2 separate regions of the Homo sapiens genome follow, and region 1 is linked to region 2. Evidence: fine-mapped expression QTL. Tissue or cell type: thyroid. Region 2 holds a variant in brackets; the other region holds the start of a gene. All regions are shown on one strand. Distances are between the middles of the regions.

What was found. PIP is the estimated chance that this variant, and not a neighbour inherited with it, causes the effect. A credible set is the group of variants that fine-mapping cannot tell apart.
Region 1: LINC01644 starts here. The variant in region 2 is the best candidate, but not a certain one, in a credible set for the expression of LINC01644 in thyroid (GTEx, PIP 0.52).

Annotation. Positions count from the first base shown.
Region 1 is chr22:47,485,919-47,488,829 of GRCh38, reverse strand. LINC01644 (long intergenic non-protein coding RNA 1644) reads left to right here and starts at 1,719. Exons shown (of 3, transcript NR_109967.1): 1 at 1,719-2,100.
Region 2 is chr22:47,462,180-47,465,090 of GRCh38, reverse strand. It overlaps LINC01644 (long intergenic non-protein coding RNA 1644), which reads left to right. Exons shown (of 3, transcript NR_109967.1): 2 at 1,703-1,773. Among named protein-coding and RNA genes, the nearest start is that of LINC01644, 23 kb to the left of the region's middle. The variant G/A (reference allele first, on the strand shown) is at 1,641.

The sequences.
Region 1 (2,911 bases), 24 kb before region 2:
GCTCTGGGCACCTCCTCTGCCTGGGCTCCCACTTTGGTGACACTTGAGGAGCCCTTCAGCCCACCGCTGCACTGTGGGAGCCCCTTTCTGGGCTGGTCGAGGCCGGAGCCGGCTCCCTCAGCTTGCAGGGAGGTGTGGAGGGAGAGGCGCGAGCGGGAACCCGGGCTGCGCGCGGCCCTTGCGGGCCAGCTGGAGTTCCGGGTGGGCGTGGGCTTGGCGGGCCGCGCACTCGGAGCAGACGGCCAGCCCTGCCGGCCCCGCGCAGTGAGGCGCTTAGCACCCGGGCCAGTGGCTGCGGAGGGTGTACTGGGTCCCCCAGCAGTGCCGGCCCACTGGCGCTGCGCTCCATTTCTCGCCGGGCCTTAGCTGCCTTCCCGCGGGGCAGGGCTCGGGACCTGCAGCCCGCCATGCCTGAGCCTCCCACCCCCTCCATGGGCTCCTGTGCGGCCCAAGCCTCCCCGACGAGCGCCGCCCCCTGCTCCACGGCGCCCAGTCCCATCCACCGCCCAAGGGCTGAGGAGTGCCGGCGCACGGCGCGGGACTAGCAGGCAGCTCCACCTGCAGCCCCGGTGCGGAATCCACTGGATGAAGCCAGCTGGGCTCCTGAGTCTGGTGGGGACTTGCAGAACCTTTATGTCTAGCTAAGGGATTGTAAATGCACCAATCAGCACCCTGTGTCTAGCTCAGGGTTTGTGAATGCACCAGTCCACACTCTGTATCTAGCTATTCTGGTGGGGCCTTGGAGAACCTTTGGGTCTAGCTCAGGGATTGTAAACGCACCAATCAGCGCCCTGTCAAAACAGACCACTCGGGTCTACCAATCAGCAGGATGTGGGTGGGGCCAGATAAGTGAATAAAAGCAGGCTGCCCAAGCTAGCAGCGGCAACCTGCTGGGATCCCTTTTCACGCTGTAGAAGCTTTGTTCTTTTGCTCTTTGCAATAAATGTTGCTATTGCTAACTCTTTGGGTCCACACTGCTTTTATGAGCTGTAACACTTACCGCTAAGGTTTGCAGCTTCACTCCTGAAGCCAGCGAGACCACGAGCCCACCGGGAGGGATGAACAACTCCAGATGCGCCGTCTTAAGAGCTGTAACACTCACCGCGAAGGTCTGTAGCTTCACTCCTGAGCCAGCTAGACCACGAACCCACACAGAAGGAAGAAACTCCGAACACGTCCGAACATCAGAAGGAACAAACTCCAGACGCACCACCTTAAGAGCTGTAACACTCACTGCAAGGGTCCGTGGCTTCGTTCTTGAAGTCAGTGAGACCAAGAACCCACGAATGCAGGACACAGTTAGGTAGAGGGGCCTCTGGACACAAAGGTGGGGCCCCTGGGGTGGAAAAGGGGAGCTCCTGGGGTCACATATAGTTGGCCCTTGCCCGGGCCCAAAGCAGTGCCTTCCTCCTCGCGTCCTGCCCCAGTGCCCTGCTGCAGACCAGTAACTACCCTTCTTCCAAACATTGGCTGATCAGGAACATCTGGCAGATTAACGAAAGGACACAGGAGTGGTGAAATCTCAGAGCAAGTTCCTAGGTGTCAGAGTTCCTAAGCTTTCTCTCCTTAAATGCCCTTTCTGTTGTGCTAGGGGCCTTTACATTCAGAAGTAAGTCTAAACACTAAGATGTGTTTGTGAACTCTAAACTTCCTCTTCCTGGAACACGTAGGTGTGCATTACAACTTCACTCCAGCAGCCACGCCTTCCTTTGGTTATTCATGTAGCCACCTTATCCTGCACAGGTCTGTGGCAGGCCGTGAGACGGTGACCAGAGAAGCAGTCAGCACTCACGGCCCCTGCCCTTTCAGAGTTTACGCTTGCTTGGAAGCCTCCAGAATGGGGATAAGCACAAGACATTTATGCTGGGCTTCATCCAGGAAGCTCTGGTGGAAGGAAGAGAAAGCAGCCCACACAGCAAGGTTCAGGAGAAGATTCCCATGAAGGACAACTGGGGTTCAGCCCCATCCAGCAGATGACACGGAGCCGGCCTCGGAGGTGTCCTCACCGTGGGACACTGGCATCTGAGCTACCTCAGGGCGTAGCCGGCCGATGTTCCCAGCCTCCCCCTGGGCACAGCCAGCCCAGGCCAAGTGGTCTAGGTAAGCAGCCCAGAAAGGGGACACAGGTGAGGTTGGGACAGCACCTTCCAGGGGGTTAGGTGAACAGCAAGGTCAAGAAAACACACAGCAAGCACCATGGTGGGGTGGGGACCGAGGGGTGACAAGGCTGAGGATGGAATCGCAGATGAGTCTTGAGGCATTTGATATCTAGCATTTCCTTTTGATTCTTTTAAAGTTTTCATCTCTCTGCTTACATTTACATGTCATTTACTTTTTTCATTAGAGCCCATAACAATGACTCACAGATATTTTAAGTTCCTTTTTGGATAATTTTCAAATCTTTGTTATATCTGAGCCTTGTTCTGTGTTTTTCTCTTGCCTTTTAATTTTTTGTTAGAAGCCAGACATGATGCATCAGGTAATAAAAACGGAGGCAATTAGGCTTTTGGTGTGAGGTTTTATATTAATCTGGCCAGGAGTTAGACTGCGTGTAATGATTGCTGTCGTTGTATATCCCAGGGGCTTTAGTTTTCTTGTGTTTTTCCCCATTTTCTTCGGGGTTTCCTATGAACTTCTTATATAAGAACCTGTGTCTTACAGCTGTCTGGGTTGTAATCCACTGTTACTATCCTGGAACCCTATTGACGTGGTGGTAAGGGGAAGATTCTGTAATTTTTTTTTTTTTTTTTGGAATGGAGTCCCACTCTGTCGCCAGGCTGGAGTGCAGTGGTGCGATCTTGGCTCAGTGCAATCTCCGACTCCCTGGTTCAAGCGATTCTCCTGCCTCAGCCTCATGAGTAGCTGGGACTACAGGCTCATGCCACCATGCCCAGCTAAGTTCTGTATTTTT
Region 2 (2,911 bases):
GTGGGAATCTCGCTCAGGGGCGATAGTTCCGTTTAGGGCTGAGGTCATGCTGGCTGAGTGGTCTGATTCCAGCTGCTGGAAGCTGGAAGTGGGGTGTGGAAGGAGGCTGTGGCCACTGAGCCCCAATCATGTGACAGGCACTCCACTGGCTGCCCTCTTCGTGATGTTGATTGAAATCATCTGCTCACTAATAACAGAAACAAACATGGGTCCTTGGGTCAGAGTAAAGGAAAAGTAGGAGGCAGTTATGGGGTTTGTGGAGTATCCTACATGGCGAGGGCAGGAATGTGGATGGGACCTCAGGAAGGGATGGGATCAGAATCAGAAGTGACCAGAGTCTCCGTCCATCTCCCTGCTCTTCCTGCACACCAGGTTCTATTCCTCCTTCTACTGAGGTTTTTTTGCCTCTGTTCCCCTGTGGCCTCCTGTGGCTCCTGATCCTATAGGTACAAGTCCAGCCTCTGGGAGACATGAACCTGTTCCTGGGCTCAATTCCACATCCTTTGGGAAGGGTGAGCGGCTCACCCAGCACTACTGGAGTAGTGTCAGGTACAAAATGATGACCTTTGTTCCATCAGCGTGGACCAGTTGCCAGCTAAGAGGGTTCATGTCAGTGTGTTATCCTGAGCCTGTGAGGTGGTTTTCTTATGGGTGTTACCAATGAACATCAGAGAGCTGATTGCCATGCCCAAGGCGAGACCAGTAATGCCTCAGCGGGGGTTAACTCATGGCTACTGGGTCCAGGGAACGTGCTGTATCAGCCACGCTCTTCCTCTCCCTGTTATTGCTCTGTGTTCTAGTTGGAGAAAATGTCACAAGCAAAGAGCTAGAGGTAAGCAGGCTGGCACAGAGGGAAGCGTGTTAGGAAGTGTGTTGATGGCGTGCTGGTTGGGTAGGGAGGAGCCCTGGCCCTGCTGGTGGGACTATGAGAGTGAAGATGACAGCGTTCAGCACAGTAATAGGATGGGATGGGGGAGGGGGCGTGGGCACCCTGGAGAGGGAAATACGGTGGAAAATGAACACAAGGACCCAGAGCAAGAACACAGCATTCAATAATGAACGAGTGTGTTAGTCCATTCTCACACTGCTATAAAGAACTATCTGGGACTGGGCGATTTATGAAGAAAAGAGGTTTAATTGACTCACAGTTCTGCAGGCTTAACAGGAAGCATGATTGGGAGGCCTCAGGAAAGTTACAATCATGGTGGAAGGCAAGGGGGGAAGCAAGAACCTTCTTCACACGGTGGCAGGACAGAGACAGCACATGAGGAGGAAAGTGCCACATCCCTTTAAACCATTGGATCTCATGAGAACTCACTCACTACCACCAGAACAGCAAGGGGAACTCCACCCCCATGATCCAAGCCCCTCCCACCAAGTCCCTCCCCCAGCATTAGGGATTACAATTCAACATGAGATTTGGGTGGGGACACAGAGCCAAACCATATCAACAAATAAGAATTTATTTTATTTTTGCACCAAAGAACCCAGTTTGGTTTCCTTTCTTCATCCCACTAGCGAACACTCTGTGTGGCTTCCCTCATAAATGCCCCCCAGGACTCAGAATTCTCACCCCAAAGGATTTGAGACCGAGTCTGCAAGACACGGATCGTCCAGATGAGTGTTTTCCTCTTTTCTCC[G/A]CGGCACTGAGGGGCTGAGAAGCATCTGGAGATCTCATGCAACTCTCAATTTCCCACCACAGCCCCGGCCCCCACTCAGCATGGCCCAAAAAAGGAGCAAAAAGCAGAAAGCTCAAGGACCCTCAGAATCAAGGTAAATTTTCTTTCTAAATAACTTGAGAATTTTTTTCCCTCTAGTGCTTGAATTTTCTAAGCTCTACTTGATATTTTTAAGACGTTAAAATGACTCTGATTTTGAATCAACCTCGTTGGTCTTGCAAAGAAAATAACTGTGCTTTGAATGGAGAATAAACAAGTTGGGAAGGGAGAGTGAGGAGATCCTCAGCTCCTTCTGGGACCCAGACCCCACCTCCCCCTGCACACTCCATGCTCAGGTGCATCTGGAGGTGGAAAGACCCAGGGTCAAATGACAGCTCTGCCTCTTGAGACTGTGTGACCTTTGGTGAGTGACCTCGCATTTCTGGGTCTTGGTTTTCTCAATAAAAATAAAAAAGAGAGATAAATAGGTCTACGTGGAAGAATGCTTGGAATTAAATGAAATAACATATGCAAAATAGCTGTGCACTTCTGAAAGTCCTCTATAAATGTACTCTCCTGATGCATGACACTGATAATTATTGTTGCTAGTTATTCTCTCAACCTACTGTGTGCAAATCCCCTGTGCTTCGTGCCAGAGGAAGGAATTGGGTTGAAATTGTCTACTTGCAAAATGTATAATATTTTTCTTTCAGGCTTGTTCTGTCAAACAAAATCACTATTCAGTACCTGGGACATTACAATAATACATTTTAATGAAAACAATTAATTTGAAATGATTGCTTTGTTGTAAGTAGAATGAAAAAAATCATTATAAATTGGCAAATGGAAGAGAAAAATGTTTTTATATAAGTACTTAGGAGAGACATATTGAGGCCATGAATATTTCTAAAATAAGAGAACATAAAACTTGAATTTGTAAAGTTGTTTTCTTAATTTGGAGGGCTGTTTCAACTTGTTTCCAAATGAAGATAAAAGAACCAAGTTCTGCAGCTTGTGCAAATGTATGGGGAAATCAATGCAGGCTTTTTTCTTCTTCTTCTTTTATTTTTTTATTTTTATTTTTTGAGACAGAGTCTCTGTTACCCAGGCTGAAGTACAGTGATGTGATCTCAGCTCACTGCCACCTCTGCCTCCCAGGTTCAAGTGATTCTCCTGCCTCAACCTCCTGAGTAGCTGGGATTACAGACGTGTGCCACCACGCCCAGCTAATTTTTGTATTTTTAGTAGAGACG